4 linked regions of the Homo sapiens genome follow. The protein of the gene in region 4 purifies or fractionates together with the protein of the main gene of each other region. This does not show direct contact. Each region holds a gene or a part of one and is shown on either strand. Other genes may lie near its edges.

What was found.
Region 1: the proteins of MGRN1 (region 4) and PDCD2 purify together in Homo sapiens (co-immunoprecipitation; 3 studies listed by BioGRID and IntAct, with this or other methods). This does not show direct contact.
Region 2: the proteins of MGRN1 (region 4) and ANKRD46 purify together in Homo sapiens (co-immunoprecipitation; 4 studies listed by BioGRID and IntAct, with this or other methods). This does not show direct contact.
Region 3: the proteins of MGRN1 (region 4) and INTS7 purify together in Homo sapiens (affinity purification with mass spectrometry; 2 studies listed by BioGRID and IntAct, with this or other methods). This does not show direct contact.

What each region holds. Positions count from the first base shown.
Region 1 is NC_000006.12:170,581,341-170,589,063, forward strand, and holds the start of PDCD2 (programmed cell death protein 2), read right to left. Parts: upstream 3,298-7,723; 5' UTR 3,242-3,297; coding exon 2,959-3,241; intron 2,408-2,958; coding exon 2,165-2,407; intron 1,849-2,164; coding exon 1,717-1,848; coding exon of another isoform or gene 1,688-1,716; exon of another isoform or gene 926-1,687; coding exon of another isoform or gene 918-925; exon of another isoform or gene 1-917.
Region 2 is NC_000008.11:100,556,760-100,563,934, forward strand, and holds the start of ANKRD46 (ankyrin repeat domain-containing protein 46), read right to left. Parts: upstream 3,001-7,175; 5' UTR 2,952-3,000; exon of another isoform or gene 2,279-2,951; intron 1-2,278.
Region 3 is NC_000001.11:211,976,173-211,983,652, forward strand, and holds part of INTS7 (integrator complex subunit 7), read right to left. Parts: intron 6,639-7,480; coding exon 6,504-6,638; intron 5,019-6,503; coding exon 4,921-5,018; intron 2,340-4,920; coding exon 2,100-2,339; intron 1,373-2,099; coding exon of another isoform or gene 1,274-1,372; exon of another isoform or gene 660-1,273; intron 548-659; coding exon 410-547; intron 1-409. UniProt on the Homo sapiens protein: Component of the integrator complex, a multiprotein complex that terminates RNA polymerase II (Pol II) transcription in the promoter-proximal region of genes.
Region 4 is NC_000016.10:4,627,713-4,635,192, reverse strand, and holds part of MGRN1 (E3 ubiquitin-protein ligase MGRN1), read right to left. Parts: intron 1-7,480. UniProt on the Homo sapiens protein: E3 ubiquitin-protein ligase. Mediates monoubiquitination at multiple sites of TSG101 in the presence of UBE2D1, but not of UBE2G1, nor UBE2H. Plays a role in the regulation of endosome-to-lysosome trafficking.

The sequences.
Region 1 (7,723 bases), on a different chromosome or scaffold from region 4:
CAAGTATCCTATAAAGATGATTACTGAGTTTTTTTAAAGTATCATTTTGAACCCATTAAACATATCTGATGCAGTTAGCGTCCTTGTGGATGTTCAAACTGTCCATCTTTTGCAAGCAGGAGCCTTTTCATGTTGCTTGAGTTCTGACATGGCCCTAGTAATCCTTATCCTTAATCTTTGATATGACCATGTTCCCACATTATATGAACGTTTCCTGACCTAGTTCTGGAATCAACCACCTCTCCAAAGAGCCTGGAGTTCCTTTTAGAGAGAAATGGTACGTAGACACAATCAACATTATCTTCCTCCTACGCCCAACATCTCAGTTCTCAGTAACACCAACATAATTACTCGTTTCCTTTCCCCCCAATACACACACAACCATCTCAAAATAAAAGCAACAGTCTAGTAATAACATGTTTATTCAAAATACTAACACTGTTACATTCTTTTCATTCTCAGGGCATATTCTACTAGAGATGTACTGTCCTATGTTTTGAAGTCACCTGGAAGAGTTCTTAGTGTGGTTATATGACTACATCAAGAGTTTTTTACTTTTGATGATTAGGGACTGCTTTTTAAAACTTACTTTACTCCATAATCTTAAAATACTCATACAGTTCCACAGTCACATTTACACTAACAAGGCATATTTGAAGTCCAGCTTTCATCCTTGATCCTGCTACTCTAGGCTCTCCTTTCTCCTAAAGATAAGCATTTTCATTATGTATCATGTTTATCGTATAGGCATGAACACACGCGCGGCCCCTTCCAGGCAGTCTTCAGTGATGTCACGTGTTCCCATGGCACCTGTATTGTACTCTTATCAGTCATTATATGGACTTTAACTTCCCCAGATATTATTTGGGCTCCTCCATAAGACTGTGAGCATCTGACCACTGGAGTGTTGCTTCCCATTATATCCCTGTTATCAAGCACAAGGTCAGGCACAGAGTAAGACTCAAAACATGTTTTGGAATGTATGACTGGTATGAACTACAAACCAGTAAGCTGATGTTTTCATTTTGAGTCTATAAATCTAATTTTGTGGTGGTTTTGTGTATGGCTCAAGGCTCAAATTGTAAAATTTAATATTATGTGACCAAAGAAAGTTATACCCAGAACCTCAATTTCCTCACCTTCAAAATGGGGCAGTTTCTCACTCATTGGTCTGCTGTCACGATTTTAATGAGCTCATGCACAAACAGCCCTTTATATAAGGTAAGTGCTGGATAAATGTTGGCTACTATAATAAAATAAGCCTCTAAGATACTTGGTCAGCACAAGTACTACCCAAGAGTATGCACTGTAAGTAAACTGACAAAATTGTGTATCTAAAACTGGCCAGATGAAAGAGAAACTTTTAAGGGGCCCTTCTGCGTGCCCGACACTGTGCTAGGCACTCACACTATCCCGACCCGAGAAACCGATCTGCGACCCAGAGGAACTTACCAAGCCTCCAGCATCTTGTGCAGCCCTACTCATGGGACCATCTGGATACCCACCCTTGTCTTTACAGGGAGCAGAACACACCTCTTATGTGTCAGAAAACAAAGTCCAGGAAGTATATTTTTACCTGAGGCAATATCTGAAAATTGTATGCTACAGCCTCCAAAGTGAGTCTTCCTCTCAGTACCTCTCTTCTAGGCACATGGAGCCCTTTCTTCCAAGTATTATGTTTAACCACTTAATGAATGAAGTCCTGAAACTGCTTACCCATGCTCCCTATAATCTCTGAGTAATCTTCCTTTTCCACAACCTCAGGCATAATCTCATCTTCTGTTTCTATTACAATTTCAAATTCTGGAAAAAGGAAGTTGTGGTCTGGAATTATATGGTCCAGATGATCTGAAACAAAAAGGACAGCACTATTAGTAATCATTTAGTTTTGAAGACAGTCTAATAATTTGCTGTCTCTAAAGTACTATATTCCCTATAGTTCTGGCATTTTAGATAAAGGGTCATAAATTAAATGCCTATATGGTGACATTATTCAGTGATTCAGACTTCACAGCCTTTTTTTTTTTTTTACAAAGGTGTTCCAGGCATGAAAAATTTTAAAGTACTATACCTTTCCTAATTTTACCTTTAAAGTTGTCCTGGAAATATCTGGGTTGACAAAGGCGATGAAACTGAACTGAGACTTAAAAAAAAGATTACCCACCTGGTTGTGCACAAGCCTGCTTATGTCCCAATCTCCAGTCTAGGGTCTGATGCTCCTTGCTGCAGTAATATGCTTTGTGGCATCTGGAGCACGTTTTGGGGCCTAAACAGCCACAAACCCTGCAGAGATGAGCACCAGACTTAAGCTGGAGACACACTGATTCTCCTGTTTCTGGGGGAGGATTCTCAGAAGGTGGCTCATATGAGTAAAAATCGTTTTTCCTGGGTAGTTGATTCCTAAAAACTAAAAAAGAATACAGAGAAAAGTTTTATCTTCAAACAAAACAGCAATTCACATATTTTATCCTCTGCACGTAAAACTGAAAATAACAACAACAAAAAAGAAATGAAAGTTTTTGCTTTCAGGAATAAGCTTTTAAAATCCAGAAACTAGATTTCGTCCGGTACACGCAACTGAGTTGCCTCCTAGAGGTGGTTTGAGTTAATCAAATTAATAAGACTGATCGTTAAGAACGACTGCCAAAAATACGAAAAAGCTACTGGGATCCATCTTTCCAAGACAATTTCTATTATCTGAATTAACACCATACCTGGTACCCACTGATTAAAAGCTGGGGGTTACCAATGCGCGTGGGCACAGTTAGAAGCTTATGTAGCAAAAATGAGCACATCCTGGAAGGGCCCGGGAGAAGGTGCTCCTGGGGCAGCGCGGAGAGGGAGCTCTGAGGCTGGGGCGGCAGCGGTGCTTGCCGCCGTCCCCCTGGTCGCTCCCGGAATTAACGCCGCGCACGCGTCGGAGGCATGGCCCCGTCCCGACCCCGTTTGGCGGCTCACCTCGCAGGCCGGCACAGCACGGCTGCTCGCGGCAGCAGAAGAGGAAGATGCAGCGGTGGAAGGCGTCCGGGCGGCCAGGCAGCGGCGCATACACCTGCAGCAGGAAGGAGAGCGGGCGGCCGCACAGCTCGCAGGCCAGGGCCTGGGGCCCCGGCAGCCCGGCCGCGCCCAGCCATGCCGGCCGCCCGCCCACCTTGCTGGGGAACTGCTCGCTGCGCAGTCGCCACGCCGGCGCCGACTCGGCGAAGCCCAGCTCCACAGGCCTGGCCCCGGCGGCAGCCATGCGGGGCGCGGGCTGGCGTGGGGCGCAGCCCACAGCTGGGTCGGAAGGCGGAAATCGGGCGCCGGGCCGGAAGGCAAGAGGCGGGCACCTTTCCGGAGGACAGGAGGCGGAAACGCGTCTGACGGGAGCGGTTGCAGGACCAATGCGAGGGAACGGGGCAGAGGAAACCTCTCGGCATCAGCCCCGCCCCTGGCGCCTCTGCCTCCGAGCCGCTTTCCTGGTGCCTCCGGGTGCTCTGGGATGGTTCTGGTCTTTGGGAGAGTGGCAGCTGGTGACGGCGCTCCGCTCACCTCTGCACATGTCTTGCTGTGGGCCTGCGGGTGGCCGCCAGGGAGGCAGAGCCCTCCCGCAAACCTTCCCTGCTGGTGTCCACCTCAGGGTGTGGGAAACCTGTGCGCTGGCCGAGTGCTAACCAAGAGTAGGCAGTGAAAGACAAATGAAGGTTGAACAGGTAAAGTGAGGACCCTACAGCGGAAACCAAGAATCCTGTGTGCCTGAGAGTAATGAAGAAGCCTCTGCAGAAGAGTCTTTTCTGTCAGTCTTAAGGTCTCTGTTTTAATGTTAGTGCTGGCTTGCTGTACCTGAATTCCAAGGGAGGAGTGTATAATGAGGCATGGCCAACCCCCACTTCCCATCATTGCCTGAACTAGTTTTTCAGGTTAACTTCAGAATGCCCTTGGGCAAGCAGAGGGTCCATCAGTCGGTTGGAGGGTTTAGAATTTTACTGTTGGTTTGCAAAGGTCTGAAAGAAACATGTACCACCTGTTCTCTTTAAGGAGTTCTACTTAGGAGGTTTCATTTACATAACAAGACCGTGGTTGTCAGCCAGGTCTCCACCCGCATAACCTGTTATGCCACAATCCAAACCCCCATTCTGTAACCTCAAGATGGTATATAAGTTTCTGAACCCCATTTGGGGCTTCAGCAAAATCACTCTGGTTCTCCCCCATGTGCATGTTAATAAATTTGTATGCCCTTTCTCCAATTAATGTGCCTTTTGTCAGTTGACTTTTCAGTGAACCTTCAGAGGACAAAAAGGAAGCTTTCCCTTGGCTACTACAGTGGCTTTAATGGAAGTAAAGTCATCAACAACATTTATTTTTGACAAAATCACAGTTTAGTTGGCAGTATATTTGTTTGTTTTTGTTTTATTTGAGATGGAGTCTCGCTCTGTCGCCCAGGCTGGAGAGCAATGGTGCGATCTCGGCTCACTGCAACCTCCGCCTCCCGAGTTCAAGCATTCTCCTGCCTCAGCCTCCCGAGCAGCTGGGTAGCAGTATATTTGTAATGGTACATAAAATAATGTCTGTTTTTAAATAAACATTTACATTGTAAACCAAAAGTTAACTCTCCATCAATTTTTTTTTTTCTTTTTTGAGATGGCATCTTGCTCTGTCACCCAGGCTGGAGGAGTGCAGTGGCATGATCTCGGCTCACTGCAACCTTCGCCTCCCAGGCAAGCGATCCTCTTGCCTCAGCCTCCTGAGCAGCTGGAATTATAGGTGTGTGCCAATACAACCAGCTAATTTTCGTATCTTTGGTAGAGACAGAGTTTCACCATGTTGGCCAGGCTTGTCTCGAATTCCTGACCTCAGTTGATCTGTCCGTCTCAGCTTCCCAAAGTGCTGGGATTACAGGCATGAGCCACCACATCCGGCATCCATCAATTTAGAAAGTTTATTTCACCAAGATTAAGGTTGCACCCGTGACACAGCCTCAGAAGGCCCTGATGACCATGTGCCCTTGGTGGTCAGGGTACAGCTTGCTTTTATACATGTTAGGGAGACATGAGACATCAATCAGTATGTGTAAGATGTACTTTAGTCAGGTAAAGCGGGACTTGAGGTGAGGGCTTCCAGGTCATGAGTAGATAAGAGGCAAAAGATCGCATTTTTTTGAGTCCTTGATCAGCCTTCCACTGAATACACAATTTAGTCTGGCTCAGTGAATTATCATTTTTACGTAAACAATAGGGGAGGGGAAGCAATTAGATATGCATTTGTCTCAGGCGCACCTTAAAGGGATAACTTTGAGTTCTGTCTGTCCTTTATCCACAAGGAATTTCCTTGTGGGCAAATTTTAAGGGAGGTACGTAGCCTCTTATCTTGGCAGCTATCTTATTTAGGAATAGAATGGGAGGCAGGTTTGCCTGACATAGTTTCCAGCTTGACTTTACCCTTTGGTTTAGTGATTTTGTGGTCCTGAGTTTTATTTTCCTTTCACAGAAATTATACCGTAAAAGTAATTGAAGAAAATCACTTCTTTCCCCTTCCCTCAACTAGGCCTTGACCATTTTAAATAAAATCAGGATTTGCTGAAGGTCAACAAATTTAACCAAGTTCAGTTAAAACTTAACTCTGAATCTGTATGTCCCTGGGGTCTTTTCCAGTGAGAGATGTCTAAGCATCATTCCAAGCTTTTCTATACTAACTGGCCTATTTGTATGTTTCTTATTTTAGGATTCCTTTTGTTCATGTGTATTTTTATTAGGCAATCACCCATTTCCTGTAGGTTTCCAGGTTAATATATTTTTCTTATTGGAATTTTAATTTATCCTCTCTAGTTTTCTACATATTTTTTTTTTCTTTGAGACGAGGTCTCATATGTTGCCCCGGTTGGCCTCAAACTCCTGGGCTTAAGCAATCCTCCCACCTTGGCCTCCCAAAGTGCTGGGATTATAGGTGTGAATTACTGTACCCAGCCTAGAATCCTTAGTCCTATATACTTTTGCTGTTTTTTTCATTGCCAACTTGAAATAATAAAAAGGGTCAGAATCCTATAAACCAAAAATAAAATAAGGCCCCCCAACCCTCTGAATGGACTTCCTCCTCTGACACAGATCTTTTACAATTTAACCTGTATGAACCCCAAAAATTGGAGACAGGTCTCAGTTAATTTAGAAAATTTATCTTGCGAAGGTCAAGGACACACGATTATGACAGCCTCAGGAGGTCCTGACGACATGTACCTAAGATAGTCAGAGCACAGGGTGGTTTTATACATTTTAGGGAGATATAAGACATCAATCAACATATGTAAAATGAATATTGGTCAGGAAAGGTGGGACAACTCAAAGAAAAAATGGGACAACTCGAAGTGGGGAGGGGCTTCCAGGTCACAGGTAGGTGAGAGACAAATGGTTGCACTCTTTTGAGTTTCTGATTCACCTTTCTAAAAGAGGCAGTCAGACATGCATTTATCTCAGTGAGCAGAGGGATGACTGAATGGAATGGGAAGCAGGTTTGCCCTAAGCAGTTCCCAGCTTGACTTTTCCCATTAGCTTAGTGATTATGGGATTCCAAGGTAATTTCCTTTCACATTTCCCCCCTTTTCTTTTTTAAAATATTTTGGAGAAAGCATTTTTGAAGAAAATAAGTTTCTGTTCCCAGGTTTTATCTGCTCTCTCATGGCTAGGATGGTTTTTTCCTAGAAGGGTAGGTCCTGAGTTATTAGGAAAGCTCATTTTTAGAAGGTTGTGAAGTCTAATATCCTATCAAGAGAAAATTTGGGGAGGAAGGGAGAACAATAAGAACAATCTTGGAAAATTGATCTAGGCCACATTACTCTGAAGTCCATACATCAGTAAGCAGGTATGAAAGTGGCTTATGTATGTAAATAGGTTCCCATTATTTTCTTCTGAAGTTTAAGTTGTCTACTTCAGTTCACAGGGCTTCACGAAAGTTAGTTTTAAGTGACTTAGTTTAGTGACAGCTTAGTTTTAAGTGACTCCAAATTAGGAAAAATGGGGAAAAAAAGAAGGAAAAAAATTGAAAACATTATTTTGAAGACTTGTAGCCCACAAAAATTAGAATTTGGTCCAAACTGTAGAAAATGATAAAAATTGAAAAACATTAGGCAAGACTAGAATCTAACAACTGGTGGACTATAGTTTTCCAGTCTCTAGTTTCCCATTTATACTAAAGACAAATCATGATAGGTTTGCCTTATTATATTTGGCCGAATTATTTGTATACAGTGCAGCAAGAATAATTATTTTTTAACATTGGCTTTTAAATTGGCTTTGATGGAACTTTGTTCCATAGAGGGTATTTCAGATAAGACTTTTTAAAAGCTGAGCCCAGCCATGGATTTGTGCCATCAAATACCTGTGAGTTTGGTGATCCTCTCCTCTTGAGGTTCCAAGATAAACTTGAGGCTCCTGGGCCTGTCAGAAAGTGACATTCTTTACTTACCACAGGTCAGGAACCCTGTACAGGAGCTGTGTAGACAAAGTTATGAGGACGGTTTTTCCAAGGGGGTTTAATTGGCTCCGTAAGTCAAGTAAAAGCATTGGTAAACAACCAGTTTCCCCAATTGTGTCCTGTTACAAATGAAAACAGATTATTAGTGCACTTATGCAAATAACTGTATTGTCATAAGTTAAGAATACTTACAGTTTCCAAATTCTGGAGAAATCGGGTAGAGAGAACCAAATGTGCTCCAAATTTTGTTCATAGGAGTATGTGTTACTCAATTGTTAAA
Region 2 (7,175 bases), on a different chromosome or scaffold from region 4:
AGGAGGAGACACAGTTGGTCACTTTCTCCCTGAAAAACTCTTTACTTGGCCTTCAGTACTCCATACTCGCTTCTTTTTCCTCCTACCTTCAAAAGCCTCTCCTTTGTAATTATTCATCTCTCCAATATCTGAATGTGGAAAGCCCTAGAGCTCAATTCTCATTTCCTTACACTAGATCTCATAGGCTCATGGCTTTAAATACTACCCTTCTGTGCAGGGGTAGCCAATCTTTTGGCTTTCCTGGGCCACAGTGGAATAACTGTCTTGGGGCACACATATAACGATAGCTGATGAGCTTAAAAAAAAATACAATCAATCTCATAATGTTTTAAGTAAGTTTACAAATTTGGGTTGCACAAGCTTGCATTAGTGACTTCCCAAATTTCTATTTCCAGTTGGACCTTTCTCTTCAACTCCCGTCTCTATAACCCCACTTGAACAGGCATCTCAAACCTGACTAAAACTGGCTCCACCTACCTTCACACTCAGTCTTCTCCATCTCAGTACACTGTTTAACTAAAGCCTTCCAATAGCTCAGGCCAAAGGCCACAGGGTCGTGCTTCACCCTTTCTCTCATAAGCACATCCAAACCATAAGCAAATCCTATCAGCAATACTCAGAATACGACGGCTTCTTACTGCCTCTCTTACTACCCACCTGGTCTAAGCCACCATTCTCTCTGGCTTCAATTACTGCATCAACCTAACAGGTCTCCCTGCTTCCATCCTTGCCCTTACAGTCAACACTGAACACAGCAGCCAGAGTGATCCTTTAAAAACCTTAAGCCAGATCCCCTCATTCCTCTGCTCAAAACCCTCCAAACACCTCCCTTCTCACTCAGAGTAAAAGCAAAAGTCCTTACCTGGGCCCATTAGCTCTCTGACCTTGTCTCACCCTCCTTCCCTCCAGGTGCTCAAATCTACTGGCCTCCTTGCTGTTCCTCTCTTGCTGTCCCTCTAACAAGACTGAAGGGTTCTGGGCTTTTGCCCTTGCTTGGTATGCTCTTTCCCTAGACAGCTGCATGGCGGTCCCCAACGCCTTCAGTTTTGCTTGAGTCTTTTCCATGGCACCAGTCCTTATTTTAAAACTGCACCTGTTCCTTCCTTGGTGCTTCCTATCCCCCTTTGCTACTTTATTTTTATTCCTAGTAACTGTTACCATCTGACTCCAGATACGTTAACTTTCACAAATCCCGCTTATCGTCCCCAACCCCACCTTCCTCCAGTGACATGTTAGCTCCTGGAAGACAAGGACTTCATTTTGTTCACTCTCACATCCCCCAGTGCTTAGAACAGAGCCTGGCCATAGAAGGCACTCAATATACGCTTGCTATATGAATGCCGAATATGCAAATTCTTAAATCTATAATAGGTAAGGCTAAGAAGTTTGGGACTATAAAGCCCAACTTATTTCCACAATGGGAAATACAATTTCCCTTTTGATAAAGAACTGTGAGAATCCTTTGTTTTCCATAGTAACACAATTTATATAACATGCCAAAAATTCCTTATCACTTCACATCCTCTCTCCAGTGCCTTTCCTGTATTCTGTAAAATATTAACTTACTATCATCAAAAAATCTTTGATTTCCCTCTGGTACTGCTACCATAATAATGCAAAGGCAAAGTGAACTCACTAAAAAATGGTATGGAAACATAAATAATGAAGAAATGTAATAAAGTGTGTTAACAACCAAACAAATTCATCTCTATTTCAAATCAAATTGTACTGGCACAGTGAGAACCCCAGTCCAAGTTTAACTTTATTATCACTATAGTCCTTAATGAGCTAACAGTTTTCTTACTAAACTCCTTTTAAACTAAAAAGGAGTTCATGTAGGACTCCTGCATATAACCATGAAAACTAAGCCTGAGAGAAATCAGTTCAGGCTACAAATCTAATTGATAAAACTCTTAGACAGCGCTACATGTTTGGCTAGATAACAGACGCAGGGATACTGAAGTAAGGGAGATGAGACCAAATCTCGCTCAGCCTTTGCTAGCTTTCTGACCTTGGAGAAGTCAGACTCTCGGTGCCTCAGTTTCCTTATCTGTATAATGGAAATGGTACCTGATAGGGTTGCTTCAAGGATTAAAGGTACCAGGTATTTAAAGCAATGGCACCGTGTCTGACATAAAATAAGCACTGAAAATAGCTATTACTAGAACATAAAAATAATCCCCACACCACTCATATTACAGCTCTTTAAGAGGCTCCTAGGTACCACCGTCATTTTTTAAAGATTGAGAAGCGCTACTATTCAATGGCATATTTTTACCTTATTATGTTCTGTAGCCAATTCCGAATACCGTGGAACGTTACAAAAAACAGATGTTATTTTCTTGAGGTACTGTTGGGAAAACCTCAGAGAGAACGATCTGCTTTTTAGCACTGCAAGCCAATTAAGGGAGGAAGTTTGCGATTACCCGAGCCCTAAGTGGAAGGTGTGCAAATCCTTCCTTTTAACCCGGGCACCCCGGAGCCATGTGCCATTCTGGAGAGCTCACTCACACCCCAACAGCTTGTCCCGGCGCCTGAACTGTGCGCTCCTGCAAGCACACGCCGCGAAAGCACCGTCTCGCCCCGGCCGAGCAGCTGGACCTGCGGCGTGGCTTCCGCGCTCCACCCCCCGATTAACCGCGAGCCAGGGCTGCCCGCGCTGCCCAGGGGTTCCCCGGACCACAGCCCTAACCCGCAAGCGCAAACGAGAACCCTCGCAGGCCTCTGCCCGGCCCTCGTGAACACACAGACCGCGAAGAAGCCATCACGGACCCGCGGTCGCTTCCTCGGCCCGGCTCCCTCCAGTCGCCGCGGAAGGTGTGGGAAGCCCGGGCACCCTCGCCCCTCAGGGCCCCGGCCAGGCCTACTGGACCTCCAGTGCTACAGGGACGGTGCAGGAGATATCAAGTGGCTCTAGCCCAGGCGCTGCCCACAGGCCCCGGGCCAAGTACCTGCGACTCGAACGAGCAGCAGCGACAGCGGCAGCTTCAAGGAGGCGGTGACGGGCGGAGGGGAGGGGCCAGACAGGGGTAGTCGGAGTCCCCGCTGGGCCAGAGCGGTCTCGCGCTGCAGCCCCCGGCGCGCCCCCTGCAGGTGGGCGGTCCTCACGGTGGCTCGGGCTGCTCTGAGTCAGAGACTCCGGGAAAGCCTGCTCTGAATTAGGGAAAGCATCAAAACTGTGGCTTCAGAAGAGAAAGACAGCCTAGAAGAGGTTTATCCGATCTGAGTCCGGGAGCATTTTGCACTTTTCACGTCCTATTCTAAATTCACATCCCATCCCCTTAGCTAAATGGGGGCTTCAAAGGCAAGGGCAGTTTCATTAGGTGCTATAAGCATCAATTAATAGTTGCTGGCCTCTAGGTAGGTCTTCTATAGACCCGAAATTGACATATTAGGAATAGCCACTAATGATTGGCTGCACTATTTCTAAAATATAACCCTGCATTTTTACTTTTTTCAAAAGCAGTTTGAATCTTTTTTTTTTTTTTTTTTTTTAGACGGAGTCTCACTCTGTCGCCCAGGCTGGAGTGCAGTTGCTCAACCTCGGCTCACTGCAAACTCCAACTCCGCCTTCCGGGTTCAAGCGATTCGCAGTTTGAATCCTTCCATCCTACTTTGTAGGGTTCCTTGACTTATTGCAACATGTACAGCCAAGACTAACTAAAAGTGTGGTGGGACATTCATATGCTGGAAACATTCTTTCATGCAAAACTAGTTTTTTCTTTTTTTCATTTTACCAACTCCAGTCCTACAGCCAAGACAACTCTCACTGCACAGTGACCGTCCTCTGAATTCTAGCACCCTCATCCAACCAAGCCACGCTCTATGGCAAACTTGTCCAACCCCTGGCCCACACCTGCAGGCTGCATGCAGCCAAGACAGTTTAGAATGCAGCCCAACACAAATTAATAAACTCTCTTAAAACATTATGAGTTTTTTTTTTTTTGCAATTTTTTTTTAGCTCATCAACAATTGCTGGTGTTAGTGTATTTTATGTGTGGCCCAAGACAATTCTTCTTCCAATGTGGCCCAGGGAAGCCAAAAGATTGGACACCCCTGCTCTAGGGTATCTCATGGTTCATTCATTCAAGGACCACCTACACCATCTAATAATTTGTTCTTGAAAGTGTCATGTAAAGGTTTAGGACTATTGTCATATTAGAGGAAATCACTATTACATTTCTTTCATGTAAGAATTATAAGATCTGGCCATGCACGGTGGCTCACACCTGTAATCCCAGCACTTTGGGATGCTGGGGTGGACAGATCACTTGAGGTCAGGAGTTCGAGACCAGCCGGACCAACATGGTGAAACCTTGGCTCTACAAAAATACAAAAATTAGCCAGGCACGGTGTTGCACACCTGTAATCCCAGCTACTCAGGAGGCTGAGGCACAAGAATCCTTGAACCCCAAAAGGCGGAGGTCACAATGAGCCGAGATCTCACCACTGCACTCCAGCCTGGGTGACAGAACAAGACTCCATCTCAAAAAAAAAAAAGTTATAAGATCTTAGGGCATTTCACATTTTATTGTGCTATGACTAATCAGCAATATTACTTGTTAAATTGATGACATTTATTAATCAGTTTGTTATTGATGTCCTCCTTCTGGTTGTGTATTGAGTTTATAATATCTTCACTGATGCCTATAAACTATGACAAATTAGCAAGGAAATTAAAGCTTTTCCCAATGTATTAATAAGATTTACTCTTCATTAGTTGACTCATCCAACAATCTGAGAGCCTCTCCATTACTTCTATTCAAATTTATCTCTTCCTCTTCATGAATTACTGCTTTTGATTGATATGAAAAAATGTAGGGATGGTGAAGACAGCTTTTTTCTCTGATGAGATTAAAGTGAACTGCATGCTGCACATATTCTATGGCTCCTTCATGTTACCACACCTGGGCACTTTGACACAGTGGCTGTTAGGAGCTGATATGGTTTGGCTGTGTCCCTGCCCAAAATCTCATCTTGAATTATAATAATACCCATATGTCAAGGGCAGGACCAGGTGAAGATAATTGAATCATGGGGGCAGTTTCCCCTATGCTGTTCTCATGAGAGCGCGTGAGTTCTCATGAGATCTGATGGTTTTATAAGGGGCTTCTCCTTTTGCTCAGCACTCATTCTGTCTCCTACCACCCTGTCAAGAAGTGCCTTCTGCCATGATTGTAAGTTTCCTAAGGCTGCCCCAGCCATGCAGAATTGTGATTCAACTGTGAGTCAATCACACGTCTTTTCTTATAAATTACTCAGTCTTAGGTGTTTCTTCATAGCAGTGTGAGAATGGACTAATACAGGAGCATTTGCAGAAGCCATTCCTACTCTCCAGCAATAAGTTAATAGTGCATGGAAGTGACCACGAACCACATGAACGTCTCCCATTAAATGCAAACCAAAGTACCCCCAGCTGCATTTCTGTTTAGCTGGATCCCAAAAATGCCTGTAGTCACTCCAATGTTAGCCAGTAGAAGAATACTCCGGAAGTCTCAGTGGAAAGAGAGAAATCTTAATCAATTGTAGGTAAAGTATTTTAATTTTGCAAGCTTTACAAAAACATATAACCATATCAGCACTGCTTCCCAGGGCCTTGGAAGGGGCCTGAACAAGGGAGGGCTATATATTGGTTTCCTATTGTCATTGTAACAAATTACCCTAAATTTAATACTTTAAAACAAGGATTATTTTACAGTTCAAGAGGTGAGAAGTCCAAAATCAGTTTCGCTGAGCTAAAATCAAAGTGCGGGAAGTGCTTTCCTTCTGGAGATTCTCAGGGGAGTTGGTTGCCATGCCTTCTCCAGCTCCTAGAGGCCACCTACGTCCCTGGCTCATGGCTCCTTTTTCCATCCTCAAAGCTAGCAGTGTAGAGCATTTTTACACCCCTCTGACTTCTGCTTCTGTCCTTGCATTTCCTCTGTGACTCTCCTGTCTCCTTATAAGGACCCTTGTGATTATATTGGGCACACTTGGATAATCCAGAATAATCTCCCTATCTCAAGATCTTTCACTTAATCACATTTGCAAAGTTCTTTTTACCATGCAAAGCAACATATTCATAGATTCTGGGGATTAGGATTAGGATGTGGACATCTTTGAGGATCTGTTATCCAGCCTACCACAAGAGCCCTGAAGCTTAAACTTTACACTCTTCAGGTAAGTCTGCCTCTTCTTCCTCATTACTAAAATCTATCTGGTCCTGAGTTTTGATCGTGAGAGTTCCAATGGCGGAGGAATACCTGTAATTACAACCGAGATAAGTGTCATGAAGCGAAAGAGAAAGGATTCCTTGAGGGCAAACAATATGGGAGCTAATTTAGATAGAAGGGCAACAATGTCTTTGAATAAGTGATATTTAATCTAAGATGCAAAGCATGAGGAATTAATTATGTAATGAACAAGGGAAGTATTCTAGACAGAGGAGACGGTATGTTTGGCCTGTGAATCCTGATGGCAGAAAGCTATCACCTTCTGTGGCAGTGTCTCTACCACTGAATCCTTAGCACCACCACGGTGACTGGCACATCAGACATGTTTGGGAATATTAGCTTAGTAGTTTTCAACCTGGCAGCATGTTACAATCATGCAGCAGCTTAAAAAATAACAGTGCCAGCCGGGCGCGGCATCTCACGCCTGTAATCCCAGCACTTTGTGAGGCCGAGGCGGGTGGATCATGAGATCAGGAGTTCAAGACCAGCCTGGCCAAGATGGTGAAACCCCATCCCTACTAAAGATACGAACATTAGCCGGGCGTGGTGGTGGGTGCCTGTAATCCCAGCTACTTGGGAGGCTGAGGCATAGACTTGCTTGAACTTGGGAGCCAGAGGTTGCCATGAGCCAAGATCGTGCCACTGCCCTCCAGCCTGGGCCACAGAGCAAGACTCTGTCTAAAAAAAAAAAAAAAACAGGGCCTGGGCCCTAGCCAAGATCAAGTTAGAATCATCTGGAAGCACGGCCCAGGCATCTGCATTTTTAAAAGCTGCTCAGGGAACTCTAATGTGCAGCCAGGATTGAGTTGAGAATCGCTGTATTAGATACAATTGAGTGAATGAATGAATAAGTGAAAGGAAATATTTGCTTTGGGTAGGCTTTTCATTTAGAAAGTTTTCTTATTAGGGATAAGAAGGGTTTTGACTATATTCGTTATATAAATTCCTATCCAGTCTTAAAAA
Region 3 (7,480 bases), on a different chromosome or scaffold from region 4:
ATGGCTGAGAAGAGTACAGCATACTAAAGCTTTCCCATTTCTACTTAAGAATGACAAGACTGGGGAGAGGAACAAAGATGTGGTATACTGAGAAAGGAAGATAGAAACAGCGGGTGGTAGGTGGCCTTGGTTATAACAATACAGAGCAAAATGAAAGTGGCACTAACAACCTACAGCCAGAAAGGGTCCAGATTTTAACTTCCTCATTACTAATGCCAACAACATAGATACCATTCTTTTATGATAAAAGTTAAAAATCAGGTCCTTTCCTTCCTCATCTTCAGAACCCATGACTAAAAGGTACTTCCATCTTTATTTTTAGTTTTGACTACAACTAATAATCATACAATTGAAGATACATGATCTGACATTTCCAGCAACCCAGTTCACTCAGAAGGGTAACACATACCATTCTGGAAGCCTGTCTGGCAATACGGTATACAGTCCATCCATTGGAGACACTTTCAAGCTGCTGCTTAATTACTGCCTTACTTTCCACAGACAATGCCTTCTGACTTGCAACAAAAATCACAGTAGCCAAACTCACCTAACATTGGGCAAGAAGAAAACCAAGAAAATCATTTAATTTTATTCAGTGTCATTGATAACCTACCCCAAAGGGAGGAAAACTAATTAGAGCCCACTGCAAAAGAACAAAATTTGTTTTCCAATGACATTTATTTAATTTTTTATTTTGAAGTCATTAATTTATTCCATTCACTCAGGGCACTCTTTATAACAGCAAAGAAGTAGAAGCAATACCCATAATATGAATAAATTATATAACATAATCAAACAATGAGATACGTAAATAAAATGGATAAACTAGCGACAGACTTACCAACATAGATGACAAGCAAAATACGCAAAAATATGCAAAATGCAAAAGATTACAAGTAGTATGATAAAGTTTACATAAAATTAAAAATATGCAAAATACTGCATATTACTTAGGGATATACACTTTGGTAGTAAAAGAATAACAGGCATGAGAATGATAAATACCAAATTCAGGATAGTGGTTACCTGAGAGAAGGGAGGAGATGCTATCAGCAAGGTAAACAGGGGGCTTCAACTAAACTGTTAATACCTTTTTCTTAAGCTAGATAATGAATGCAAGAGTTTTCACTGTATTATTCCTCAGATTTTTTGAATATTATGTTTCATAATTTAAGACAATCTTAAGGTAGTACTCACAAAAAAGATATCAGGACCGTTAGTTCAAAATGCCACTTCAATAAAAAATAAACTTAGCTAACTGCCTCTTAATATTTCAAAGCTGATTCATATAAAGATCCATACATTTGGTCATCAAGGTAACCTTTTCTGGCAGCAAATGATGGGATGGGGTCAATCTTTTACACAATTCCCTCTGGAGGATTAAACATAAAACAGGCTTGAATAAATTATTTCATTATATTTTTTCCCACATTCTAAATTAAGATGAACAGAACAATATGGAATGGCAACCTTACAACTTTCATTTAATTTACAATTATTTAGAATGTAGCCTACTCTCAGTCCTGCAGAACTTTTCAACTAAACATTTTATAGCTTCCACAGCTTCTGTTTCTTTCTAAGCATGTACCTTTCCCAACCTCAAGGGTCTACAGAAGCCTAAACTGGATCCTAAACAGCTAAAGAGGTCCTGGAATGGAAAACATAAATTTGGGCTAATTTATGGTCATTATTATCATTAGATTTTTAACTTCTATTTTCTAAAGTACAAAACAGGGTTTAGTTCATTATTTACTCTGTATAAGAAAGATAAAAATTTCATTTTCATTCTGTCCTTTGCAATAAAAAAAAACATGAGATTGAAGGCTTTGGCTATACTAGGCTGATTTGACAGGGTTTCGGAAGAAAGCAGTTTTAGAGGTGAACAAAACACGGCTTTCTAAATCAAAAGTGAAAAAAGTAAAAAGCTCATAAAGCCAATTCTATTTTGACATCAGCACACTCTTTGGTCTTAGGTAATGAATTTAACCTATTGTTTGTTCTGTTTTTTAAGTAAAGTCAAATAGTAATGTTGACTTAAAAGTAATTCCCACTAGACCAGATCCTAGTCATTCAAAGGAGATTCAAAATGGGCTTTTTACCAGAAGTTCTTGTTGCTTGTCTGTGGCTGATCGTCCAATCACCTTGTACAGCTCCATGAGGTCACCAAGCATCCCATCACCCAGCACCGGCAGTTGCATGGCAATGGCTGCCAGGCAATGGCACATCAAAATCCGGGCAGCGTCTTGAGCACTGTGCAATTGAGTCAACAAGGTCTCAACTACTGACTGGCTAAGATGGGGCCTGCCCTTGGCCAACTTCACCATACAGTTTAGAGCAATCTGCACGCCAAAAAGAAAATGAACTAGTTACATTTTGAAGATACAGATGAAGCTTTAAGGAAAAGAGCTTTGTACAGGTTACTGGGGAAACTCAAGGGTGAGGTTTCTTGTAGGCATAACATTTTACTTCATAAGAAATATGAGGTACTGAATCTCACATTAGGGTTTGTGAAGTGCACTACGTTTAAAATAACAAATTAGGACTGCACGTCAACCACTCATTTCAATCTAAGACTATTAAAATACTTTTAAGAAAGATGGAAATCATAAGGAATAATGCTGAAGAGGCAAATATAGGCCAAATGTCACCATCACTGTATTATCATTACTTTTCAGGAACTGCTTCTGAAGTGTGGCTTGTAAACTATGCCAGCATCTCCCAGAATGAAAATAAAAATATAGATTCCTGAATTAACATACGTGTGTGTGTGTGTTGAGGCTACTGAGGTTTCACAGTTTTAAAAAGACGGCTTAGATGACTCTAAGTACACTGAAGTGGGAAAGAGGTTCCCAATTTTCTCTTATTTCTCAACTGAAATCTAAAAACCAATTTGGCTACAGAATTTCTCTTACCAAGGCCTTCTTAAAGGCATCACTAATATCCAGCCAAAAAACTAGAAACCTAGAAATATTCCCACTTTTACATAGCTAACAGATTCTTTTGTCAAGCCTCCAATATCCACTGTTGGCACTTTTCCATTCTCTCTACCACATCATAAATCTCTTCCTAATTCCAATTTCTTGAAAAGATGGGCCCTTCAATCCATCCTTCACAATGCAGCCATGTAGCCATCAGTGGGGTGTCAGGCACACACATAACTTTAGAGTCTGATAAATGCAAGGGCTGAAGCTCAGCTTGCCCCTTATTAGCTAGGTGGCTTTGAACAAGGTACTTCTCTCTCTCGGCCTTAAGTTTCTGATGTGTATAAGAGGAGAACACATTTCATTATAGGGTTATTGAAGGACTGAAACAAATGTATATATAAGTCTTCAACAAAGATTGGCACATAATAGACATTCAAATAACAATAATAATTACGACAAAGGTTACCATTACTTTAAAATTATATTATCTCCTCATTACCTATAGAATCAAAGCCATAATACCATGTTATTTGATATCCTCTATGACTGAACTACTTTTCCAAATCTCAAATTATTTCACCCAGCCACAGTGGGCTAGTCACCATTCTTCCACCACAACAGGTACATTCTTACTTTCAAGTCTTTTATAACAGCAGTCATTGGGCTCAAACAATCTTTCCTCATTACTGTAATTCGATTCCATCTTTCACAACTCAACTCATATGACATTTATTTAAAGTCTTCCCTAATACCCTTGGTTAAAGTTAATCACTCCCGACTCTGACCTCTCATTAGAACTGCACTTTTTTTGTGAAATATCAGAGAATGTATTGTGTTCCGCTTGGTATTATAGTCCCCTATATAAACATCAGTAGCCTATTCTAGATGGGAAGCTCCTCTATTACAGGAACCTTTCTTGGCCATCTATGTATGTCCCACTGTGCTGAATCCAGCATTTTACTGACACCCACAATTGTTGGAAAAAAGATTTGCTTTTAAAAAAAGTCTTAAATGTACTGTGGTTCCAAGGGGATTCTGAGGATCCCCCTCAGAATGTGTTGCCAAACACATGTTGTCTACTTCCCTTCTCTACTTCTTATTAGCTGTCACTTAATGATGTTACTATCTTTATTGTTCATCACTATGACCATATCACAACTTTCCTTAACCTGCTAAAATGAGCCATGACTTCCTTGAAACCACACCTTAGACAAGCTAACGCCAATGTTTATCTAACAGTTTCTTACTTCTATTAACTATGCTTCTCCTCATTAATTTTGCACCATCACAAATTATATTTCACGTTTCACTCCAAAAAGAGTAGTTTCATTTCACATTTTATTTATTTATTTTTTTTGAGACAGGGTCTCATTCTTTCACATAGGGTAGAGAACAGTGGTGCAATAATGGCTCCCTGCAGCCTCAACCTCTCGGCCTCAAGCAATCCTCTCACCTCAGCCTCATGAGTAGCTAGGACTATAGGTGTGCCCCAATATGTCCAGCTAAATTTTAAAAAATTTTTCTAGAGATGGGGTCTCAGTATGCTGCCCAGGCTGGTCTTGAACTCCTAGGCTCATGCAATCCTTCCACCTTGACCGCCCCAAAATGCTGGGATTATAGGCATGAGAGCCACTGTCCTGGCCTCATTTCACATTTTAAAAATCTTGCATATCTCTAAGATGATTTCTGTAACTAAGTGAAGGTGAAAATTCCTTAAAATATTCTTCCCTTGGCTTATAAACTAGGGCTTATACCACTGGGAAATTAATGAACGCTTATGTTAAATTAATGAACATTTATGAGTCGGCTGCAGTCATGTCATCAGTTTTTTTGTGGTTTTATCAGTTAGATTAAATCAGTGTAGTTTTATCAGTTAGATTTAATCACTTAGATTAAAACTTCTAAGAGTACAGGAGCTATGTCTGCTTAACTTTGCTTTCTATTGCCTAAGACCATCATATATATCTATTACAACTTAATAAATAAAAGTTTTCACCTTTAAAGTGGCCTGAGCACCTGGACTATCATCTTGACTACAAAGTACCAGTAGGGATTCCAGGCCAAAGACAGCATCTTGTTCCAGTGCCAAAAGATCTAGAAGAAAAACAGTAAACTTTATGATGGTCAAGTGATGTGTGTACAAACACACACACATATACATGCATACACACTCTCTTAGAAAAAACATTAAGGAGTTTAAGATATAGGGAATTATTAAATGGATGAACCTAACCTTCCTTGAAAAAGTACATGTGGCATTACTTCTAGAATGTAAAGTCTATCTTCAGACTTTATTTCTACCACTTTATTGAAGTATTTATAAAAATATACACATTAAATCAAGAGCTAAAGCCACAAAGCTATAAATAAAGCAAAACTGAAATAGTGTCACCAGCTTAGCTAAGGAAAATACTAAGAACAGCAAACTATGCAGTATGTGTTAATCTCCCTAATCAGAAATAAATTATGCAGGTCCATTTTTACCTAAGATATAACAGTTTTCAGCTTCTAATGAAAGCTGAACCACTTTTAGGAAATAATAAGGTCTCCACATAACCTTATTACTGTTTTAAGTCTGACCATAAAGAATGAACCTCTTAGATGTCTCATGAAATAGCAGCACTAGAACATCTTTTCACTACCATAGGGTTAAAATTTCTCTGAAGGTTTTAGAAAGTTCTGAATATATTAGTTACCTTTAGGTTAATATATTTCAGTGTTGAGAACATACAGCAGTTTTCTGTGTTACATGGAAGAAAATACTCTTTGTGATGCCAATATAAAACAGGCTTAATTATCCAAATCAGAATCAACTTTCAACTTTAAGAAATGTTTCCTGAGTGCAGGAGCTTGGCAAACAGAGTAAAGGCTAGTGAAGGTCAGGTTGCTAGAAAAAAACAGGTACTAGGAACAAGCAGTGCTGAAGGCTAGGGGGGATAAGAGGAACCACTGAGCTTGTAATCCTTAATGAAGATCAAAATCAGCACTGAAACAGATGGAATATCCAAAATGCATTTCTTGTTCTTGAACACAAGTCAAAAGATGTTAGGTAGACAACAAAATATGTGCATTATTTTCCTTGCATGTCCTCCTTGATTATGCAAGTCAGTTTAATGCCACATATACCTAGAGTAAATTCTGTGAAAATTTAATTCACATTGGTCTGTGAATTCACTTGCCTCTAGGTGAAACTATTTGTTATTTAAGTCCCTGGAGAACCTAAGTAAATTTTCTAGGTTTTTGTATAAGTGAACATACCACCTTATACAAAAGGGGTAGAGTCCTAAGCAATCTTTATCCACCATATATGCACCATATATGCAAAGGTAAGCAGTGGAAGGAAATGGGCAATGCTCCATAAAACCTTTCAATTCCACTCCCAAGGTCTTCATCTCTTTATTATTTTTCACAAGGATAAAGTAGTCTTAAGAACACATGCTCTAAGAACACTTTGAAAGGAGTCAATTTGTAGATCAAGGCACACAGGCTAAAAATAAGGGATTAAAAAAAAATCAAACAGAATTCTGTCCAAGGTCTAAACCAAAGTTTATACGTAATATCAGTCCTGATCAAACTTACCCTTTTCTTGACAAGAAACAGTTATATTAGTTAGGACTCTAACTCCATGAGCTGCAATGCCCCTGTTATTATGGTAACAGCACTCTTGGGCTAATTTGACTAAATCAGAAGATCTGGGAGAAGAACTCACATTTCCTAAAAAAGCAGAGAAAAGTAGTAGAAATTGTAATTCAAATAGTTCAAAAGCAGTTCAGCTCATAGGTTCAATTTTCTTAATTTTTGAGAAAAGTCTCTAACAATAAACTTCAACAAAATTTCCTACCACAATCCCACTATCAATACATATCAGCATTTCTCTCCATTAAGGTACTTGAAATAGGTATGTGCCAACAGTTTCGTAATGACTAAGATCTAAAATCAACGTATAATTTCTTAAAAAATATTAATAAAAATTGACTAACAGTACAAAAGCCAAAACAACTATCCTAAGAGTTCAAATGAATTCTGATTAAAACAGGTATCATTATAGGCCTCTTGTCAGACAAAACCATACTTTCAAGATAGGAGAGAAAAGAGAAAAAAATTTAAATTTGCTTTTTTTTTCCATCTCAGATTGCTGACACACATTTATACCTCATATGAATTCGTGATTGTAGAGCTGGAAAGAATTTTGGGATCATCTGATTTAACACACCCTATTTTTACAGGTGGAATCAAAGCCCAAAGCCCCAAAATTTTAAGAATCTTGCCATTAAGTTCATAAAACTTATCAGTCATGTTCTAATGCCCCTGTTATTATACTCTTCTGCTTTATACCTTAAATTCCATGCTATAGATTGCAGCAATTTTTAAAATTCACATTTGAAATTCTGGAATGCAAGGTTCATGTTGTAACTATTGTAATTTACAGTAGAGAAGCCCTCAGTTATAACTGAATAAGCTTCAAGAAAACAAGGAGATTAGGGCTTGTTCAACTACTTAAAAGAGTCTCCCATTCCTGTCTTCTTTTCCTCTGCTTATTTTTCCATGATTCTCGT
Region 4 (7,480 bases):
TGATCCGCCTGCCTCAGCCTCCCAAAGTGCTGGGATTACAGGCGTGAGCCCCTGCAGCCAGCCCCCAGCCTCTGATTTTTAATGTCTATGTGCAGTATATGTACACACACACTTTTTCCCCAAAGCACTGAAGCAATCTTTTCTTTCTTTCGATTCCCCAGAAGGCTCCCTGGGAGTCTGGGCTCTCAGAGACATCACAGAGAGCATCTGTTCCGCGGGGCGAGAGCCCTGTTAGAAGAAAGCTTCAGTTATGTGAGCAGTGGCGCCAGTGCTGAGCCCTGGGGAGCCAATGCAACCTTCTGCCCACCTCAGGGATGCCAGGCCCCGCTGAGGCCACATACCCAAGACCACGTGAGAGGACCCAAGTCCCCCGCGAGCTGGATGAAAGGACTGAGCAAACGGTGTTTCTTCTAACGGCCTCAGGTCTTGATTTCAGTCACTCCTCAAACCTCTCGCTTCTTCGCCCAGGTCTATGGAAAGGCAAATGACCGAACACTCGCTCAGGATCCAGGGACCCCTCCAACACTGCTCCAGGTCAGCTTCTCCACAAACAAGCAGAGGGACACAGGCCGCTCCTCTTCCAGCCCCTCCTAGGGCGCAGCAAAGGGCTGAGCTCCGGGTAATTCTACAGCTGTTCAGCGAGCACAAGTCAGGCACTGCAGGGATGGTGCAGACGACACCACGCCGTCGTCCACTGGACAAGATGACCCCAAAGCGCAAAGCTAGAGAGCCTCACGGGACACAGCGGAAGGGCGCGGGGAAAGCCAGGCAATGTCGGACCCAGGCGGCACCGGGTCTGGGAGGTGGGCAGGCAGGAGTGGTCACCACTTCAGGGTCATCCAGGAAATACAGAACATTTTCCAGAAAACTTCTGGGCATCATGAAAAACAAAAGCTGGGCTGGGCTGGGCGAGGGCCAGGGCCTGTCCCTCCCTGCTGGCTCACATGGACTGGCAGCCAGACCTGAAAGGGGCCCAGGGAATCAGAGGTGACCCCCAGGGCTCAGCCAGGGAAACCTGGGGCCCCATTGAGCAAAACACTGGCCAAGGCCACTGAGGAAGTCACTGGCACAGGAGGGGCTACCATCAGCCCAGGACTCTGAAGCTAGTGCTCCTCCCACCACACGCCTACAGGGTTGCCCCCAATGGCAGCTGCAATTTTCACAGCCTGTTAGGATTGCTTTTACCTTCAAATGCATCCTACTATGAAACCCAAGCCCTTTTTAAAAAAATTTTTATCACGAGGTCAGGAGATGGAGACCATCCTGGCTAACACGGTGAAACCCCGTCTCTACTAATAATACAAAAAATTGGCCGGGCGCGGTGGCGGGCGCCTGCAGTCCCAGCTACTCGGGAGGCTGAGGCAGGAGAATGGCGTGAACCCGGGAGGCAGAGCTTGCAGTGAGCCGAGATAGCACCACTGCAGTCCGGCCTGGGAGAAAGAGTGAGACTCCGTCTCAATAATAATAATAATAATTTTTTTTATTGATAGATATATTTTTTGAGACAGAGTTTTGCTCTAGTTGCCCAGGCTGGAGTGCAATGGCACGACCTCGGCTCACTGCAACCTCTGCCTCCTGGGTTCAAGTGATTCTCCTGCCTCAGCCTCCCGAGTAGCTGGGATTACAGGCACGTACCACCACGCCCAGCTCATTTTGTATTTTTAGTAGAGATGGGGCTTCTCCATCTTGGTCAGTCTGGTCTCAAACCTCCGACCTCAGGTGATCCACCCGCCTTGGCCTCCCAAAGTGCTGAGATTACAGGTGTGAGCCACGGCACCCAGCCAATTTTTATTAATTTTTCAATAAATAAAGCCTGGGCACTGTTGCCCAGGCTGGAATGCAGTGGCGTGATCTCAGCTCACTGCAAGCTCTGCTTCCTGGTTTAAAGCAGTTCTCCTGCCTCAGCCTCCTGAGTAGCTGGGATTATGGGCACCCACCACCACGTCCAGCTAATTTTTTGGATTTTTAATAGAGGTGGGGTTTTACCATGCTGGCCAGGCTGCTCTCAAACTCCTAACCTCAAATGGTCCACCCGCCTCAGCCTCCCAAAGTACTAGGATTACAGGTGTGAGCCACTGCACCCGGCCAAATTTTATTAATTTATTCTTTAGAGACAGAGTCTCACTCTGCTGCCCAGGCTGGAGTACAGTGGGGCAATCATAGCTCACTGCAGCCTCGACCTCCTGAGCTCAAGCAATCCTCCCACCTCAGCCCACCAGGTAGCTAGGACTAAAGGTGGACGCCACCACACCCAGATAATTTTTTTATTTTTTGTAGAGACAAGGTTTTGCCGTGTTGCCCAGGGTGGTCTCAAACTTCTGAGCTCAAGTAATCTGCCTGCCCTGGCCTCCCAAAGTGCTGGGATTACAAATGTGAGCCACCACGCCTGGCCGTGAGTGACTGTTTCATGGCCACTGGGTTTCTTTTTGGTGTGATGAAGATGTTCTGGAATTAGACAGTGGTGATGGCTGCACAACACAAGTATACCAAAAACCACTGGTCCCGGCACGGTGGCTCATGCCTGTAATCCCCGCATTTTGGGAGGCCGAGACGGGCGGATCAAGAGGTCAGGAGATCGAGACCATCCTGGCTAACACGGTGAAACCACATCTCCACTAAAAATACAAAAAAATTAGCCAGACGTAGTGGCGGGTGCCTGTAGTCCCAGCTACTCAGGAGGCTGAGACAGGAGAATGGCGTGAACCCGGGAGGCAGAGCTTGCAGTGAGCAGAGATTGCGCCACTGCACTCCAGCCTGGGCGACAGAGCAAGACTCCGTCTCAAAAACAAACAAACAAACAAAAAAAACCACTGGACTAGATGTTCTCAGTGTGACTCGTATGCTGTGAATTAGATCTCAACAAAACTGTTATTAAGAATAGCCGGGCGCAGTGGCTCATGCCTGTAATACCAGCTCTTCCGGAGGCTGAGGTAGGCGGGTCAAAAGGTCAATAGATCAAGACCATCCCTGCCAACATGGTGAAACCCATCTCTACTAAAAATACAAAAATTAGCTGGGCGTGGTGGCATGCACCTGTAGTCCCAGCAACACAGGAGGCTGAGGCAGGAGAGAATCACTTGAACCTGCGAGGCAGAGGTTGGAGTGAGTCAAGATTGCGCCATTGCCCTCCAGCCTGGGTGACAAGAGCAAGACTCCATCTCAAAAAAAAAAAAAAAAAAAAAAAAGGAAATTTTTTATCACTACTAGATTGGGAAGGCAATATATCAGTAATAGATTGGCAAATATCACTTGCCTTAAATAGGTAAAGTTATCTGAAAAAAAAAAACAACTGAGAAGCTAAATATCAAAATTAATGTAGAGATATACCATGTTCATGGATTCCCAGAGTCAGCACTGTAAAGACAGCAATTCTCACCACATAGATTTATATATCCAATGTAATACTTATCAAAATTGCAGGCTGCTTTTGTAGAAATAATTGACAGGCTAATTATAAAATGTATATGGAAATGCAAAGAACTTAGCATAACCAAAACAATTTTGAAAGAGAACAAAGTTGGAGAACTTATGCTACCTGATTTCACAACTTACTATCAAACTACTGTAAACAAGCCAGTGTGCTGCTGGTCTAAGAACAGACCAGGATTTCTCAGTCTAAGCACTATGGATATTCTGGGCCGATTTATTCTTAATTGTGGGGGACTGTCCTGTGGCCTCTACCCAACAGATGCCCCCAGCTGTGACAATCACAAATGTCTCCAGACATGGCCAAATGTCCCTTGAGAGGGCAAAAATGCCCCAGTTGAGAACTTCTGGGACACACATAAATCAATGGAACAGAATGGAGAGTCCCAAAATAAACCCTCACATTCATGGTTAACTGGTGGGGTTCTTGTCGCTGTTGTTTTGATTTTTAAGAGACATGGTCTTGCTTTGTTATCCAGCCACAATGCCTGGCTTAGGTCAACTAATTTTTGACAAAGGTGCAAAGGCAATTTGATGGGAAGATGATAGTCTCTACAACAAATGATACTAAAATAATTGAATTCCATCCACAAAAAAGGGGGGTTTAGATCTTTATCTCAAGCCATAAGTGAAACAAATTAATTTGGTCAGCTACAGCGGCTCACACCTGTAATCCCAGCACTCTGGAAGGCCAAGGTGGGCAGATTGCTTGAGTCCAGGACTTTGAGGCCAGCCTGGACAACACGGTGAAACCCTGTCTCTACAAAAAAAATACAAAAACTTTGCTGGGCATAGTGGTACACATACATAGCTGGGAAAACCCAGCTACTTGGGAGGCTGAGGTGGGAGAATCACCTGAGCCAGGAAGTCAAGGCTAGAGTGACATCATGCCGCTATACTCTAGCCTGAATGACAGAGTAAGACCCTATCTCAAAATTAAAAAAAAAAAAAAAAAAAAGAATTAACTCTAAATGGATCAAAGACCTAAATGTAAGAGCTAAAACTATAAAACTTCTAGAAAAGGCCGGGCACAGCGGCTCACGCCTGTAATCCCAGCAATCTGGGAGGCCAAGGCAGGCAGATCACAAGGTCAGTTTGAGATCAGCCTGGCCAATATGGTGAAAACCCCGTCTCTACTAAAAAATCCAAAAATTAGCCGGGCGTGGTGGCTCGCACCTGTAATCTCAGCTACTCAGTAGGCTGAGGTAGAAGAATCGCTGGAACCCGGGCAGAGGCTGCAGTGAGCTAAGATCATGCCACTACACTCCAGCCTGGGTGACAGAGGGAGACTCCATCTCAAAAAAAACCAACAACAACAACAACAACAAAATGCTAGAAAAAAATAGGAGAAAATCTTTGTGACCTTGACCTAGGCAAAGATTTCTTTTCTTTCTATTTGTTTTTTTTTTTTTGAGACGGCGTCTCACTCTGTCGCTCAGGCTGGAGTGCAGTGGCATAATCTCGGCTCACTGCAACCTCTGCCGCGCTCCGGGTTCCAGCGATTCTTCTGCCTCGGCCTCCCAATTAGCTGGGACTACAGGCACATGCTGCCACACCCAACTAATTTTTTGTATTTTAGGAGACATGGAGTTTCACCATGTTGCCCAGGCTGGTCTCAAACTCCTGAGCTCAGGCAATCCACCCATCTCAGTCTCCCAAAGTGCTAGGATTACAGGCGCGAGCCACTGCACCTGCGCTTTTTTTTTTTTTTTTTTTTTGAGATGGTGTCTCACTGTTTGCCCAGGCTGCAGTGCAGTGGCATGATCTTGGCTCACTGCAACCCAACTCCACCTCCCAGGTTCAAGCAATTCTCCTGACTCAGCCTCCTGAGTAGCTGGGATTACGGGCGTGCGCCATTGCGTCCAGCTCATTTTTGTATTTTTAGTAGAGACGAGGTTTCACCTTGTTGGCCAGGCTGGTCTCGAACTCCTGACCTCAGGTGATCCGCCCACCTCAGCCTCCCAAAATGCTGAGATGACAGGCATGAACCACCACACCCAGCCGCCTGTATGATTTTTTTTTTTTTTTTGAGACGGTGTCTCGCTCTTTCACCAGGCTGGAGTGCAGTGGCGCGATCTAGGCTCACTGCAACCCCCGCCTCCCGGGTTCAAACAATTCTCCTGCCTCAGCCTCCTGAGCAGCTGGGACTACAGGTGTGTGCCACCACGCCCAGCTAATTTTTGTATTTTTAGTAGAGATGGGGTTTCACCATGTTGGCCAGGATGGTCTCAATCTCTTTACCTCATGATCCGCCCACCTTGGCCTCCCAAAGTGCTGGGATTACAGGCGTGAGCCACCATGCCTGGGCCCAAGATTTCTTAAACATAACTCCAAAAGCAGTATCCACTTAAAAAGCAGTAAATGAGACTTCGTCAAAATTCAAAACTTTTGCTCTTCAAAAGAAACACCATTAAGAAAATTAAAAGACAAGCCAGACTGGGAGAAAATATTTGCAAATCACATGGCTGACAGGAGAATCCTATCCAGAACACATAAAGAACTCTTTGTTACAACTCCGTAAGATAAACAATCCAGTTTTTGAAAATTGGACAAAAGACTCAAATAGACACTTTTCACACACACACACACACACACACACACACACACACACACACATACGAACAGAAAGCAGGCCAGGTGCAGTGGCTCACCCCTGTAATCCCAGCACTTTGGAGGCTGAGGTGGGCAGATCACCTGAGGTCGGGAGTTCGAAACCAGCCTTCCCAACATAGTGAAACCCCGTGTCTACTAAAAATACAAAAATTAGCCTGGCATAGTGGCCAGTGCCTATAATCCCAGCTACTTGGGAGGCTGAGGCAGGAGAATCACTTGAAACCAGGAGGCAGAGGTTGCAGTAAGCCAAGATTGCACCACTGCACTCCAGGGCAACAGAGCGAGACTGTCTCAAAAAAAAACAGAAAAGGCTGGGCATAGTGGCTCACACCTGTAATCCTAGCACTTTGGGAGGCCAAGGCAGGCAGATCACCTGAGGTCAGGAGCTCGAGACCAGACTGGCCAATATGGTGAAACCTCATCTGTACCAAAAATTTAAAAATTAGCCGGGCGTGGTGGTGCGCACCTGTAATCCAAGCTACTCAGGAGGCTGAAACAGGAGAATTGCTTGAACCCAGGAGGCGGACGTTGCACTGAGCCGAGATCATGCCACTGCATTGCAACCTGGGCGACAGAGCAACACTCCATCTCAAAGAAAAAAGAAAGCAGATCGCTGATGGGCTGAGGGTGGGGGTTGGGGTAGGGACTCTGCAAACAGATGGAAGGAAACTTTTACAAGGGAAATGTCTGCAATTGTGGTGATGACTGCACAATTCTTTTTTTTGTTGTTGTTGCTTCAATGTCCCCTCCTTTTTTTTTTTTTTTTTTGGAGACAGAGTCACACTCTATCGCCCAGCTGGAGTGCAATGGCGTGATCTCGGCTCACTGCAAGCTTCACCTCCCGGGTTCATGCCATTCTCCTGCCTCAGCCTCCCGAGTGGCTGGGACTACAAGCGCCTGCCACCACACCTGGCTAATTTTTTGTATTTTTAGTAGACATGGGGTTTCACCGTGTTAGCCAGGATGGTCTCGATCTCCTGACCTCGTGATCCGCCTGCCTCGGCCTCCCAAAGTGCTGGGATTACAGGCGTGAGCCACCGCACCCACCCACAATTCTTTTTTTTTTTTTTTTTTGAGACGGAGTCTCACTCTGACACCTAGGCTGGAGTGCAGTGGCGCAGTCTCGGCTCACTGCAACCTCCGCCTCCTGGGTTCACACCATTCTCCTGCCTCAGCTTCCTGAGTAGCTGGGACTACAGGTGCCCGCCACCACACCCAGCTAATTTTTTGTATTTTTGGTAGAGATGGGGTTTCACGGTGTTAGCCAGGATGGTCTTGATCTCCTGACCTTGTGATCCACCTGCCTCAGCCTCCCAAAGTGCTGGGATTACAGGCGTGAACCACCGCGCCCAGCCTTTTTTTTTGAGACGGAGTCTCGCTCTGTCACCCAGGCTGGAGTGCAGTGGCGCAATCTCGGCTCACTGCAGCCTCCACCTCTCAG